Regions from separate parts of the Homo sapiens genome. Here regions 2 and 3 are each linked to region 1. The links come from fine-mapping of genetic effects on gene expression. A gene starts in region 1. Each other region holds a variant in brackets. All regions are shown on one strand. Distances are from middle to middle. Region 1 holds the start of JAML (junction adhesion molecule like). Region 2 has its middle 9.1 kb from the start of SCN2B. Region 3 overlaps JAML (junction adhesion molecule like).

What was found. PIP is the estimated chance that this variant, and not a neighbour inherited with it, causes the effect. A credible set is the group of variants that fine-mapping cannot tell apart.
Region 2: its variant is the best candidate, but not a certain one, in a credible set for the expression of JAML in whole blood (INTERVAL, PIP 0.87).
Region 3: its variant is the best candidate, but not a certain one, in a credible set for the expression of JAML in whole blood (INTERVAL, PIP 0.68).

The regions. Positions count from the first base shown.
Region 1 is chr11:118,221,910-118,227,136 of GRCh38, reverse strand. It overlaps JAML (junction adhesion molecule like), which reads left to right and starts at 2,126. Exons shown (of 10, transcript NM_001098526.2): 1 at 2,126-2,196. MPZL3 (myelin protein zero like 3) reads left to right here. Exons shown (of 6, transcript NM_198275.3): 6 at 1-447.
Region 2 is chr11:118,183,104-118,188,330 of GRCh38, reverse strand. No RefSeq gene overlaps it. Among named protein-coding and RNA genes, the nearest start is that of SCN2B, 9.1 kb to the right of the region's middle. The variant A/G (reference allele first, on the strand shown) is at 2,954.
Region 3 is chr11:118,189,189-118,194,415 of GRCh38, reverse strand. JAML (junction adhesion molecule like) reads left to right here. Exons shown (of 10, transcript NM_001098526.2): 10 at 1-691. The coding sequence ends at 91. Among named protein-coding and RNA genes, the nearest start is that of SCN2B, 15 kb to the right of the region's middle. RefSeq lists an enhancer at 1-152. The variant T/C (reference allele first, on the strand shown) is at 2,021.

The sequences.
Region 1 (5,227 bases):
TTTCCATGTGACCTGTTACTTCAGGCTACTTGGGGAACATCTTAGTCCTCTGTAGCTCCTGAACCCAGCACTGGTGCTTCAAGAGAGAAGGTAGCACGTCTTTGTTCAAAACAAAACAAAACGACACTTCTGGAGGCCACATCCTGAATATGAATGTTCTACTAAGTCACTCAGTTATGGTTCTAAAGGGAAACTGTAAGAAGACCCACAAGGAGTGGACCAAGACTATTATTTAATTGCACAACTTGAAACTTTGCTGCCAGAAGAGGCAGCTCCATTCCTTTGACTCCAGTGTTGGGCTGTTAACTGCTGCACCTCATTGCCTTTTTTTGTTTTTGTTTTTGTTTTGTAGGAGGGTAGGCACTGTTGGGCCATATGCACAAATATTGTAACTCTTGGTATCTTTACTGCATCATAGTCAATAAACTTCTTTGTACCCTTTGGCTACCTTTTGGTGTGTGCATATCTACATAAAAGGTGGGAATTGTCATGTGAAAAAGATGGGGGTTTGTGGTATTAAAAGCTGAATTAAATTTAAAAGAGTTTAATTGAGCACAGAATGATTCATGAATCAGGCAGTCTCCTGAGCCAGAGTGGACTCAGAGACTCCAGCGCAGCCACGTGGTGGAAGATTTATGGACAGCAAAAGGAAAGTCATGTACAGGAAACAGAAGTGAGGTACAGAAATAGCCGGATTGGTTACAGCTCGGTGTTTGCCTTATTTGAATAGTTTGAATCATTGGCCATCTTCGATTGGCCAAACTCAGTGACTGGCACAAGAGTAGACTAGAGTCCGTATACTATTCCATTTACGTTATAGTTCATGATGTACAGAGAAACCTTTAGGCCAAACTTAAAATATGTAAGGAGGCAGCTTTAGGCTAAACTTGATTTAACAGTGGTTTTCAGCATCGTGCAACCAGTCATGTCGGAGCTGTACCCCCGCAAGAACCTGCAGAGGTTCCGTGGTGTGCTGGAACCAGCTTACATAGCAAGAGCTGATTACAGGCTGAGTACCCCTAATCTGAAAATACAAAAGAGTGGTTGCTATTTCAACTCCAAAATCTGTAACTTTGAGTGCCAACATGATGCTCCAAAGAAATGCTTATTGGAGCATTTTGGATTTTCAGACTAGGGACGTTCAACTTGTATGTATTCGGCAAATATTCTAAAATCTGAAAAAAATATGAAATCTGAAACATTTCTGGTCCCAAGCATATTGGATAAGGGATACTCAACCTGTATTAAGTTTTTTAGGAATTTTGCAAGCCAGTTGTTAAACTGTTGGTAGCTTGAAATAGGTTATGATGGGAATATTTATGCTGTGGAGATTGCTGGCTCTCTAGCACATCACTTCTCAAGGACCATGCAGCGTAGTGCTTGGGAGCAAACGTTCAACAGCTTTTCAGATGATACAGGACAAGTTCCATGAGTCTGCCCATGCCTAGGTCAAGCCAATCTAGCCGAGGTTGAAGGTGCGTACATTGAGAACACCTATTTTGAAGTGGTGACTAAGACTGAGAGGTATCTTGAAGTGAAGAAACCTTGAGTTCTAATCTAGGATGTCCAAGTCACCCAAGAGGTTCTCTATGGGAATCAATGGCTGCCTGTATTCTGGAAATGCTGATATCACATGGCCAGAGGAAACTTTCATGTCTACATGGTGAGTTGGAGGACTGGGCAGGCGTATCTTTGGAAGCAGGGATTGGGTGATTGCCTGGCGAGGTTGCACCTCTGTTTTGAGAGGAAAAATAAAAGAGGTTGCTGTATCTTTAACACAGAAGGTTTTGTGTTAATATTACGTTTATTGTATTTTGTTTGCATGAAATGGATTTCTTTCTCAGCACCTATTTGCCTGGTGCCATTCAAGCTCCTACCCTCAGAGGGCTTGTCATCTAAAAGGGGAGATGGCACCTGAAGAGGTCTGAGTGTGAGGTTCACCTCAGTAGGTTGAATTTGTCACCTCTTTTTAGAATGAAAGTATACATAACAATTGGGTAATGGGCCAGATGACTGAAATGAGAACCTTGATTTAGAGGTTCCTGTTTGCATCTCTGCAACCACTTCAGAAGGCACGTGTTTGGTTTGCTCTGAGCCTAACCTAGAGTGCTCGCAGCAGTCTTTCAGTTGAGCTTGGGGACTGCAGCTGTGGGGAGATTTCAGTGCATTGCCTCCCCTGGGTGCTCTTCATCTTGGGTAAGCAGTTGCTTTGAATTTCTTAAGCCATTTTTTGAACTTTTCTCACACAGAAGTGTGCCAGTCCTGAAGGCTGGTTGAATTGGTAGTCTCTCAGGATTGTGAAGCTGCGATTGCAGAACTCTTGATCTCTGCAGGGGGATGTCATAAAGTAGTCTAATGGGTGCTGTTTCAGTTACTGTCGTGTAGAGTAACTTAGGTGAATCTCCTCAGCAAAAAGAGGAGCAAAGTTTCATCATAATAAGAGTACGTGACAATGATTATGACAAGGCTTCAGCTTTTAAGTCACCCGTGGGTTTAGGTGGAGCTGTGACTGGCTGTTCTTGAGCTCACAGCAGAGCTCTTTCTTCACTGTTTTTCTTTTTAGAAGACAGTTTTTAATTTTATTTTTAAACAAATTTTATTGTGTGTATTTAAGGTATACAACATGATGTTGTGGGATGCATGTAGATAGTAAAAAGTTTACTATGGTGAAGCAGATTAATATATCCATCATTTTACATAGTTATACCACTGTTTTTCTTCTCCCCATTATAGACAAACCAATATTTAACCTTTAGAAGCCCGAGACTTAAATCTCCCAAGAAAGCTAGGCTACTGTCCATGCTTGTTACACCCTCAGCACAGCCCTGACCTTGGGAAAGGCTGATGCAGGATGGTTTAGGTATAACCTACTCTGGAGAAGAGAGCAGGAGTAAGGACCTCCAGGGTCCCATTCGCGTAGAGCATTAACCGATGTGACCTAGACTGTGTTACAGAAGCCACGTGACCTACCAGTCTGTATTCAATGGCTTAACAATGGAAAATGAGGGCATATTTTAAGACGCATGGCTTAGAGTGGTTATATGGACTTGTAGACCTAAAAACATCTGAGAGCCTAGAAGTGCACAGCAGTGTGCAGATAGATTGAGAGGACTTGGCTCTGCAGGTGGACAACACTCTGTGAGTAAAAGAAGGCTGTGCAGTTGTCCGTTTGCTCAGTGGTTAGTTGTCCTTACTAGGGACAAACACTGAGAGACAGCAGCTCTCCCTTATTTTGTCTCATGATATTGTAATTTGGGGGGTAACTTTCACATCTTGTATGGTAGTCTCATTGTAGCATGTCTCTTTTCTGAAGATTTCTTTTCTGTAATATAAAGGGGTATGGATTTTTTGGAGGGAGGGGGTGCCACTTGTTCTCATTACCCAACAGGATATGGAGGAGAGTTGCTCAGAGAAGATTAGTATAGAGTCACTACAAGTCATTTAGGTAGCCAAAATGATAACTCCAAAATTTCTAAAAGGCAAAAATCTTTACTTGCTGATAGAGGGGAGAGTCAACTTTCCAAGCAGGTCGCAATAAAGACAGCATGATGCCAACCGAATCTATTTCCTCTCTCCTCCTTTTTCTGTTGTTTATTAAAAGGTAAACAAAAATCTCATTATTTTAAAATATTATGCAAAAATCTTGTTTATGAGAGAAAGCAAAATTTCACCTTTGCATTAGTATATTATTAATGTTAGATCCAATTCTTAATAAAACCTTATAAACAAATCTATACAATCATAGTTTGACCATAAGGTAAAACGTCCACAAACCTCTCATAATTCTTTACAATTTTCTGTTAAACAAATAAATTCTCTAGAAAACCATTATTCAGACACATGGGCCCGGATTCTGGCCCTACATCAGTGTGCTTTTATTTCAGTGTTCGACCTATGGAAAAACTAAGTAATCCCCTTTAAATCTTAGCCAACCTGCTTATACCCACAGAACTTTTCATGAGATTAACCCTTCACAAACCCTTTTCAACTTGCTTAAACCATCAGTTTTGTCACATTACTCTTTTTTTTTTTTTTTTTTTTTGAGACAGAGTCTCACTCTGTCACCTAGGCTGGCATGCAGTGGCACAATCTCGACTCTCTGCAACCTCCGCCTCCCGAGTTCAAGTGATTCTCCTGCCTCAGCCTCCCAAGTAGCTGGGATTACAGGCGCTCACCACCACACCTGATTAATTTTTGTATTTTTAGTAGAGACGGGGTTTTGCCATGTTGGCCAGGCTGGTCTGGAACTCCTAACCTCAAGTGATCTCCCCACCTCAGCCTCCCAAAGTTCTGGGATGACAGGCGTGAGCCACCATGCCCAGCTGTCCCATTACTCTTTTAGGTGAGGCCAATAGTTAAAACCCTCTGAGCTAGACAAAATTACGTTCTCTTTAACAGAAACCATATTCACACGCCTTCTTATAACCTCCCACCAAAACACATTCTTTACTTACACTGTCTTTATTTTTTATGTTATTTACACTGTCTTTATGTTTAAAAATCATTAGAGTCACGTGACCTAAAAGAGATTAAAGTTTCAATTTTTTCTGATAAAATGTTTGATTTTAGTTTCTTTAAGCCAATTAATTAGAGCTCTTTTATATAAATACTATACATACAACACATATAAATACACAGACAGACAGAAATGGAAAATCAAGACAAAATTCCATTGACTGAGAAGTTCTTAGAGGGAAAGCAGGGGCTTTTTGTTTGTTTAGATGGAGTCTCGCTCTGTCGCCAGGTTGGAATGCAGTGGTGCGATCACAACTCGCTGCAGCCTCAGCCTCCTGGGCTCAAGTGATCCTCCCACTTCAGCCTCCTGAGTAGCTAGGACTACAGGTGCCTGCCACTACATCCAGCTAATTTTTGTATTTTTTTTTTGTTCAGATGGTGTTTCACCAAGTTGCTCAGGCTGGTCTCAAACTCCTGGGCTCAAGCGATCTGTCCACCTTGGCCTCTCAAAGTGCTAGGATTATAGGCATAAGCCACTGTGCCTGGCCAGCAGGGGCTTTTAAAACAATATCTGTATACATACAGCCCAAATATCGTCTTTAATTAAGTTGATTTCTGACTATGGAGTTCTCAAAATAAAAATCCTATAAAAATCTTTTATTACCAGATTTTAGCCAGGACAAATGGCCAATATTTCTGGCTTTTGAATCTTTACCTAAAGGTAACCTCCTATGTGAAATTAATAAACCTTAAGTAAGGGGATAACTTAAAC
Region 2 (5,227 bases), 39 kb after region 1:
CTCACCTATAAGTGGGAGCTAAGCTATGAGGATGCAAAGGCATAAGAATGATACAATAAACTCTGAGGACTCAGAAAGGGTGGGGAGGTAAGGGATAAAAGACTACACACTGGGTACAGTGTACACTGCTCAGGTGATGGGTGCATCAATATCTCAGAAATCACCACTGAAGAACTTACTCATGTAACCAAACACCACCTGTTCCCCAAAAACCTATTGAAAAAAAAATCCTTTGGGGTTGGGTGCAGTGTCTCATGCTTGTAATCCCAGCACTTTGGGAGGCTGAAGGGGAGGATCACTTGAGGCCAGGAGTTCAAGACCAGTCTGGGCAACATGGTGAGACCCTCATCTCAATAAAATAAAGTAAAATAAAATAAAATAAAATAAATAAAATTGATTAGCTAGGTGTGGAGGTGCATGCCTTTGGTCCCAGCTACTCAGGAGGCTAAGGTAGGAAGATCACTCAAGCCCAGGAGTTAGAAGCTGCAGTGAGATATGATTGCGCCACTGCACTCCACTCCAGCCTGGGCAACAGGCTAAGATCCTGTCTCAAAATAAGAAAGAGGAAAGGAAGGGAAAGGGAAGAGGAAGGAAAAGAAGAAACTAAAGAATATCCTTTGGTTCTGAACAACTTCCAGCCTCTGCGGACCAGCCTGGGTTCAGCTCTGGTCTCCTTTCCTTGACTGCTACAGACTCTTTCTTATTCTCTGCAACCCTTTCTTCATATTTAGCCATGCAGGGCCAGATAAAGAGGAGGTCTTTTCTGTTTTTCTGATTTCTGATCCAGTCTTAAATGGGGCTACATTTTTTTTTTCCTTTTTTGAGACGGAGTCTCGCTCTGTCACCCAGGCTGGAGTGCAATGGTGCTATTACGGCTCACTGCAACCTCTGCCTCCCAGGTTCAAGTGATTCTCTTGTCTCAGCCTCCCAAGTATTACAGGCGATTACAGGGATTACAGGCACACACTGCCATGCCCGGCTAATTTTTTGTATTTTTAGTAGAGACGGGGTTTCACCATGCTTCCCAGGCTGGTCTTGAACTCCCAAGCTCAGGCAATCCACCTGCCTCGGCCTCCCAAAGTGCTAGGATTACAGGTATGAACCACTGCGGCTGGTGGGGCTACATTTTTAATGATTTCCCCCAACTCTCCAAACATTAGGATCCTCTCATAACACACAGGTTATGTTCTAGTTTAGACATGGATAAGCATCATTAAATTCTTCCTTCCTATCTGCCAGCTCTTGATGAGGAGTTATGTCAGGGTTTTCCATATGGGTATTGAAGGCAGTATCCTGTCCCAGACATACCAGGGACACATATTGGTGAGACAAGTAGAGGGGGAAGAGGACTTTATTATATCTGGAGTGTTCATGGAGAGGAAGTGGTTTCATTTCTGGGCTATTAAGTAACTTCTCTCCTGGAATAAGGGACCCTTTTCCACTTCCTCAAATATTGTGTGCATTGGAAGATGGCCTTCAGGATACAGAGTTAGGTGGGTGGATGGTGATTTTACATCTGTTGCTCAGGGTCTAAGAAAATAATTAGGGTAAGAGCAGGAGGATGGGCTGGACAGGTTAGCCACATGATCCTCAGCAGGCACTTGGACCGTGAAAGTGTAGGTGTGCCCAAATTCAAATTTGATTCATTCAGAGATTGGCTTCCATTCTGGGTTCGGCAGTTGTGACTGAGGGGGAGGAAGAGGAAGCCCACATCTCTGCTCCAAGTCTTCTTCCCTACAAACCTTCTTATCCACAGGCATGGAGCCAAGGTTGAGGGTGGAAGTCCACAGTTGTCAAACACGAATTTCGCCTAAAGCCGAAGCAGCCCTACAGGGGACTGGGAAAGAGACCGGCTTCTCTCTCAGCCCTTCTGCTAGAGGTGGTTTGTCCATTACACCCAGGAACATGAAGGGAAATTGTGTAGGGAATGGGCTTCAAGATCAAATAGTCCTGGTTCAAATCCTGGCTGCCTCTTCCTCTTCAATATTGCAAAGTGTGTTTAAATCCTTTGAGGCTGTTTTCCTTATATGTAAAATGGAGACTCACAGAAGTTTGTTAGTTTGTTTGTTTTGCAAGGACTGAATGAGGTAGTATAGGGGATAGTGCCTGGCCTGAGCCCTCCCTTTCCTTCAAATGTGTTTTTCCAGGTAGATGTATCTTCTTAACGTCACTCAGAAATGAAGAACCCACTCAGAAATAGGTTATTTTATCTTCTATTTAATGCTAGTCAATCTTTGCTATTCAATCTTAATAACACAATTAACAATAGGGATGGACAATATCTTCTGGTGATTCAGTCCCCATCTCTTAATTTTGATTTCTACGGACAAAAAGCGCTTTACCAAAATCCGTAAATCCCTCTTCCTATCCGAAGAAAGACTGAGTTAGGAAGCTGAGCTTAGGCCAAGGCTTTGTATAGCTCTGAGGAGACAGATTTTGAAGGACTGGAAAGCTACTGAAGATCCCTGTAGTAGAGCCTTTGGAAAGCAGTTTTGTTACCTGAATTTGCAGTATTTTAGATCCCTGGAACATCAGATGCTCTCATATTTTAAGGTTTGCAGAAGTACACAGGCCTTTGCCAACAGAAAGCAGCCCCAAGGCTGGAGGGAGCGGAGCTACTCATGAATAATGGAGAACCTAGCAGCTTCAGAATTTGGCTATCGCAACTGAAAACAGTTCTGCTTGTCCACTGGGGATCGGTAGAAGATGAGCTGAGTCTCCTTCAAAAGGCTGCAGCCTTTTGTCGGCCAGGCGTGGTGGCTCACGCCTGTAATCCCAGCATTTTGGGAGGCCAAGTTGGGCGGATCACCTGAGGTTGGGAGTTTGAGACCAGCCTGACCAACATGGAGAAACCCTGTCTCTACTAAAAATACAAAATTAGCTGGGTGTGGTGGCGCATGCCTGTAATCCCAGCTACTCAGGAGGCTGAGGCAGAAGAATTGCTTTAACTCGG[A/G]AGGTGGAGGTTGCGGTGAGCCGAGATTGCGCCATTGCACTCCAGTCTGGGCAACAAGAGCGAAACTCAGTCACACACACACACACACACAAAAGGCTGCAGCCTTCTACCAGCCCTTTAGTTGTCTCTTCCTGGTTGCCCCCAACCAGTGTCCTTTTCTCCCTTTTGACTAGTCGGTATGCTCACCTGTCTGTTGGTAATTGGCCATTTTCCTTCATAAAACACTAGCTCTGTTTGTGTGTGGTTGGAGGGAGCCACTGAGTTAGCTCAGTTATTTAGAGCTGCAGAGCCCTAGGTTGCAGTTATCCTCTTAATTCAGCATAAACAAAGTTTCCCAGGACCACTGACCTTCTGTCCTGGCCAGCTAGTTTGCAGATGTGGTCTAGGGAGGTCAGGCAATCCGTGACCACTTCTGTAAAACCCAACTACCAGAACATCTCTTCTTCAAAAAATAAGGGAACTTAAAGTTTTCTCAGAAAGCTGAGAACTTTCTCATTTCGTAGATGGTGCAAGCCATAGTGATTTACCTGTCTGAGATCTTTCAAAGCTGTGTGAACTCTGTCTTGTATGTTCATGGCCTTCTGTGTGCTGGTGCCATCTTGTCTGCCCATCTATACTTCATTAAAAAAAAATAGTTTTAGGCCAGGTGCGGTGGCTCATGCCTGTAATCCCAGCACTTTGGGAAGTCCAGGCTGGTGGATCACCTGAGGTCAGGAGTTCGAGACCAGCCTGGCCAACATGGAGAAACCCCCCCATCTCTACTAAAAATACAACAAATTAGCCGGGCATGGTGGTGAGCCTCTGTAATCCCAGCTACTCGGGAGGCTGAGGCAGGAGAGTTGCTTGAACCTGGGAGGCAGAGGTTGCAGTGAGCCAAGGTCATGCCATTGCACTCCAGCCTGGGCAACAAGAGCGAAACTCCATCTCAAAAAAAAAAAAAAGTTTTAATGTTTTTTTTTTATTTCAATAGTTTTTGTAGAACCGGTGGTTTTTGGTTACATGGATAAGTTCTTTAGTGGTGATTTCTGAGATTTTAGGGCACCCATCACCTGAGCAGTGTACACTGTACTCAATATGTAGTCTTTTATCCTCAGCCTCCTCACAGCCTCCCTCCAGAGTGCCCAAAGTCCATTACATCACTCTTACACCTTTGAGTTCTCATAGCTTAGCTCACACTTATAAGTGAGAGCATACCATATTTGGTTTTCCATTCCTGAGTTACTTCACTTAGAATAACGGCCTCCAGCTCCATCCAAGTTGCTGCAAAAGACATTACTTCATCCCTTTCTATGGCCAAGTAGTATTCCATGGTGTGTATATACACCACATTTTCTTTATCCACTCATTGGTGGATGGGCACTTCTGTTGGTTCCATATCTTTGCAGTTGTGAATTGTGCTACTATAAACATGCACGTGCATGTGTCTTTTCCATATAATGACTTCCTTTCCTTTGGGTAGATACCCAGTAGTGGGATTGCTGGATTGAATGGTAGTTCTACTTTTAGTTCTCTTTTTTTTTTGAGATGGAGTTTCACTCTTGTCACCCAGACTGAAGTGCAGCGGCGTGATCTTGACTCACTGTAACCTCTGCCTCCCAGGTTCAAGCAATTCTCCTGCCTCACCCTCCTGAGTAGCTGGGATTACAGGTGCCTGCCACCACGCTCGGCTAATTTTTTGTATTTTTAGTAGAAACGGGATTTTGCCATGTTGGGCAGGCTGGTCTTGAACTCTTGACCCCAGGTGATCCGCATGCCTCGGCCTCCCAAAATGCTGGGATTACAGGTGTGAGCCACCACACCCGGCCTACTTTTAGTTCTTTAAGGAATCTCCACACTGTTTTCTATAGTGGTTGTACTAATTTACATTCCCATCAGCAGTGTAAAAGTGTTCCCTTTTCACTGCATCCACACCAATATCTACTGTTTTTTAAGTATTTAATTATGGCCATTCTTGCGGGAGTAAGATGGTATCTCATTGTGGTTTTAATTTGCATTTCCCTGGTGATTAGTGATGTTGCATGCCTCATTTTTTTTTCACAACAGGAACCCTCTGCTCCATGCATTGTTGTCTTTCCTGCTATTGGTGTACTCTTGCCTGGGATGACACTTTCCTTTCCTTCTTGCCTCCCCACATCAACATTCCTTCAATGCCCTGCTTTAGATCACCCGCCTGGGTGATCTCCTGCTTCTCACCTCTTCCTAGATGTCTCTGCACTTGATCTACTTTTGTCTTTCCTTGTCTTCTAATTGTTTCATGGGTGTGATACTTTATTT
Region 3 (5,227 bases), 33 kb after region 1:
CCCAGTTTGGCCTTCTCTGAGGTCAGATCGGAACAACTCACTTGAAAAAAAGTCAGGTGGGGGAATGCCAAAAACACAGCAAGCCTTTTGAGAAGAATGGAGAGTCCCTTCATCTCAGCAGCGGTGGAGACTCTCTCCTGTGTGTGTCCTGGGCCACTCTACCAGTGATTTCAGACTCCCGCTCTCCCAGCTGTCCTCCTGTCTCATTGTTTGGTCAATACACTGAAGATGGAGAATTTGGAGCCTGGCAGAGAGACTGGACAGCTCTGGAGGAACAGGCCTGCTGAGGGGAGGGGAGCATGGACTTGGCCTCTGGAGTGGGACACTGGCCCTGGGAACCAGGCTGAGCTGAGTGGCCTCAAACCCCCCGTTGGATCAGACCCTCCTGTGGGCAGGGTTCTTAGTGGATGAGTTACTGGGAAGAATCAGAGATAAAAACCAACCCAAATCATTCCTCTGGCACATTATTTCTAAATAAGTGTTGTTTGTGGAAATCGTCCTATTTTTATGCCTCGGTTGAGGGGGCAAGTAAAGTCCTGGTGAGGAATTTACAGTTAGAAACTTTTGGAAAAACTGAAGTTCCTGGAGGAAAGCCAAACCGTGCTAACACACTAGAGGCTGGTTTTGGTCCTGGGAAAGGTTTGGGGTGAATGGGTTGGAAGTAGGGTATGAATACAGTTTTGGGATTTAACTCAGTGGTTCTTCATTCCTGCTGGTGGCTCCTTGCGGGGCCTCACCACATGCCTCCTAATTTGAAATTTCTGGGTGAAGTTTAGGCATTTGTCTTTCCTGATACTCATGGGTTGCCACAGTGGACAGCCACTGATTTAATTCTTGGTCTGAAATGTGCGGTTCCTATACTTTTAGTTGCTATTGTAAGATTTGATAAGGTTAGTCTTAAAAATCCTTTGGCGGGGGGCATCCAAATTGGTAATGAGGAAGTCAAACTGTCTCTGTTTGCTGATGACATAATCATAAACCTTGAAAACCCTAAAGACTCATCCAAAAAGCTCCTAGAACTGGTAAATGAATTCAGCAAAGTTTCAGGATACATAATTAATGTATACAAATCAGTAGCTTTGCTGTACACCAATAGCAACCAAGCTGAGAATCAAATCAATAACTTAATCTCTTTTATAATAGCTGCAAAAAAAATTAAAATACTTAGGAATATACTTAACCAAGGAGGTGAAAGACCTCTACAATGAAAACTACAAAATACTGCTGAAAGGAATCATAGACAGCACAAATGGAAACACATCCCATGCTCACGCATGGGTAGAATCAATATTGTGAAAATGACCATACTGCCTGTATTTAGTTTGTTTTCATGCTCCTGATAAAGACATACCCGAGACTGGGAAGAAAAAGAGGTTTAATTGGACTTACAGTTCCACATGGCTGCAGAGGTCTCAGAATCATGGCGGGAAGTGAAAGGCACTTCTTATACGGCGGTGGCAAGAGAAAATGAGGAAGATGCAAAAGTAGAAACCCCTGATAAAACCATCAAATCTCATGAGACTTATTCACTACCATGAGAACAGTATGGGGGAAACCACCTCAATGATTCAAATTATCTCCCACTAGGCCCCTCCCACAATATGTGGGAATTATGGGAGTATAATTTAAGATGGGCTGGGTGCGGTGGCTCTCGCCTGTAATCCCAGCACTTTGGGAGGCCAAGGCAGGCAGATCACAAGGTCAGGAGATCGAGACTATGGTGAAACCCCATCTCTACTAAAAAAAATACAAAAAATTAGCCGGGCATGGTGGCGGGCGCCTGTAGTCCCAGCTACTCGGGAGGGTGAGGCAGGAGAATGGCATGAACCCGGAAGGCAGAGCTTGCAGTGAGCTGAGATTGCACCACTGCACTCCACACTGGGCAACAGAGCGAGACTCCATCTCAAAATAATAATAATAATAATACTTTAAGATGATATTTGGGTGGGTACACAGAACCAAACCATATCATTCCACCTCTGGCCCTTCCAAATCTCATGTCCTCACATTTCAAAACAAA[T/C]CATGCCTTCCCAACAGCCCCCAAAAGTCTTAACTCATTTCAGCATTAACCCAAAGTCTACAGTCCAAAGTCTCATCTGAAATAAGGCAAGTCCCTTCCACCTATGAGCCTGTGAAATCAAAAGCAAGCTGGTTACTTCCAACATACAATGGGGGTAAAAGGTATTGGGTAAATACAGCCATTCCAAATGGGAGAAATTGGCCAAAACAAAGTGGTTACAGGGCCCATGCAAGTCTGAAATCCAGCAAGGCAGTCAAAATTTAGAGCTTCAAAAATGATCTCCTTTGACTCCAGGTCTCACATCCAGGTCACACTGATGCAAGAAGTGGGTTCCCATGGTCTTCGGCAGCTCTGCCCTGTGGCTTTGCAGGGTACAGCCTCCTTCCTGGCTGTTTTCATGGGCTGGCAGTGAGTGTCTGCAGCTTTTCCAGGTGAACGGTGCAAGCTGTTGGTGGATCTACCATTCTGGGGTCTGGAGGATGGTAGCCCTCTTCTCACAGCTCCACTAGGCAGTGCCCCAGTAGGGACTCTGTATGGGGGCTCTGATCTCACATTTCCCTTCTGCACTGCCCTAGCAGAGGTTCTCCATGAGGGCCCCGCCCCTGTAGCAAACTTTTGCCTGGGCATCCAGGCATTTCCACACATCTTCTAAAATCTAGGCAGAGGTTCCCAAACCCCAGTTCTTGACTTCTGCGCACTCGCAGGCTCAACACCACATGGAAGCTGCCAAAGCTTGGGACTTGCACCCTCTGAAGTCATGGCCTGAGCTCTATGGTGGCCCCTTTCAGCCATGGCTGGAGTGGCTGGGATGCAGGGCACCAAGTCCCTAGGCTGCACACAGCGCGGGGACACTGGGCCTGGCCCATGAAACCATTTTCTCCTAGGCCTTCTGGCCTGTGATGGGAGGGGCTGCTGTGAAGACCTCTGACATGCCCTGGAGACATTTTCCCCATTGTCTTAGGGATTAACACTCAGCAACTTGTTACTTATGCAAATTTCTGCAGCCAGCTTAAATTTCTTCTCAGAAAATGGGTTTTTCTTTTCTATCACATTATCAGGCTGCAAATTTTCTGAACTTTTATGCTCTGCTTCCCTTATAAAACTGAATGCCTTTAGCAGCACCCAAGTCACCTCTTGAATGCTTTGCTGCTTAGAAATTTCTTCTGCCAGATACCCTAAATCACCTCTCTTCAGTTCAAAGTTCCACAAATCTCTAGGGCAGGGGCAAAATGCCACCAGTCTGTTTGCTAAAACATAACAAGAGTCACCTTTGCTCCGGTTCCCAACAAGTTCCTCATCTCCATCTGAGACCGCCTCAGCCTGGACCTTATTGTCTATATTGTCATCAGGCTTTTGCTCAAAGCCATTCAGCAAGTCTCTAGGAAGTCCCAAACTTACCCACATTTTCCTGTCTTCTTCTGAGCCCTCCAAACTGTTGCCACCTCTGCCTGTTACCCAGTTCCAAAGTACCTTCCGCATTTTCAGGTATCTTTTCAGCAGTGCCCCACTCAATGGGTACCAGTTTACTGTATTAGTTGGTTTTCTTTTTTTTTTTTTTTTTTGAGACGGAGTCTTGCTCTGTCACCCAGGCTGGAGTGCAGTAGCGTGATCTCGGCTCACTGCAAACTCCGCCTCCTGGGTTCATGTCATTCTCCTGCCTCAGCCTCCCGAGTAGGTGGGACTACAGGTGTGCGCCACCATGCCTGGCTAATTTTTTGTATTTTTAGTAGAGACGGGCTTTCACCACGTAAGCCGGGTTGGACTTGATCTCCTGACCTTGTGATCCACTCTCCTTGGCCTCCCAAAGTACTGGGATTACAGGCGTGAGCCACCGTGCCCGGCCATTAGTTCGTTTTCACACTGCTGATAAAGACATACCCGAGACTGGGAAGAAAAATTGGACCTACAGTTCCACATGGCTGGGGAGGCCTCTGAATCATGATGGGAGGCAAAAGGCACTTCTTACATGGGGGCAGCAAGAGAAAATGAGGAAGATGCAAGAGCAGAAACCCCTGATAAAACCATCAGATCTCATGAAACTTATTCACTACCATGAGAAGAGTATGAGGGAAACTGCCCCCACGATTCAAATCGTCTTTCACTGGGTCCCTCATACAACATGTGGGAATTATGGGAGTACAATTCAAGATGAGATTTGGATGGGACACAGAGTCAAACAATACCACTGCCAAAAGCAATCTACAAATTCAATGCAACTCCCATCAAAATACCTCCACCATTCTTCACAGAAATAGAAAAAACTATCCCAAAATTCAAATGGAACCAAAAAACAGCTTGCATAGCCAAAGCAAGATTAAGCAAAAAGAGCAAATCTGGAGGCATTACATTCCCCAACTTCAAACTATACTATAAAGCCAGTCATCAAAACAGCATGGTACTGGTATAAAAATAGGCATATAGACCAATGGAACAGAATAGAGAACCCAGAAATATAGCCAAATACTTACAAGTCAACTGATGTGTGATAAAGCAAACAAAAATATGAAGTGGGGAAAGGACACCCTATTCAACAAATGGTGCCGGGATAAATGGCAAGCCACATGTAGAAGAATGAAGCTGGATCCTCATCTCTCTCCTATACAAAAATCAACTTCAGATAGATCAAAGACTTAAATCTAAGACCTGGCTCCATAAAAATTCTAGGAGATAACATTAGAAAAACCCTTCTAGACATTGGGTTAGGCAAAGACTTCATGACCAAGAACCCAAAAGCAAATGCAACAAAAACAAAGATAAATAGATGGGATTTAATTAAACTAAAAAGCTTTTGCACAGCAAAAGAAATAATCAGCAGAGTAAACAGACAACCCACAGAGTGGGAGAAAATCTTTGCAATCTGTATATCCAACAAAGGACTATTATAATATCCAGAATCTACAAGGAACTCAAATAAATCAGCAAGAATAAAACAAACAAACCCATAAATTAGTGGGCTAAGGACATGAATAGACAATTCTCAAAAGAAGATATACAAATGGCCAAGAAACATACGAAAAAATGCTCAACATCACTAATTATCAGGAAATGCAAATCAAAACCACTATGCCATACCACCTCACTCCTGCAAGAACAGTCATAATAAAAAAAAATTTTTTTTAATTTTAAATTTTAGATGTTGGCATGGATGTGGTGAAAAGGGAACACTTTTACAAGGTTGGTGGGAATGTCAACTAGTACAACCATGAT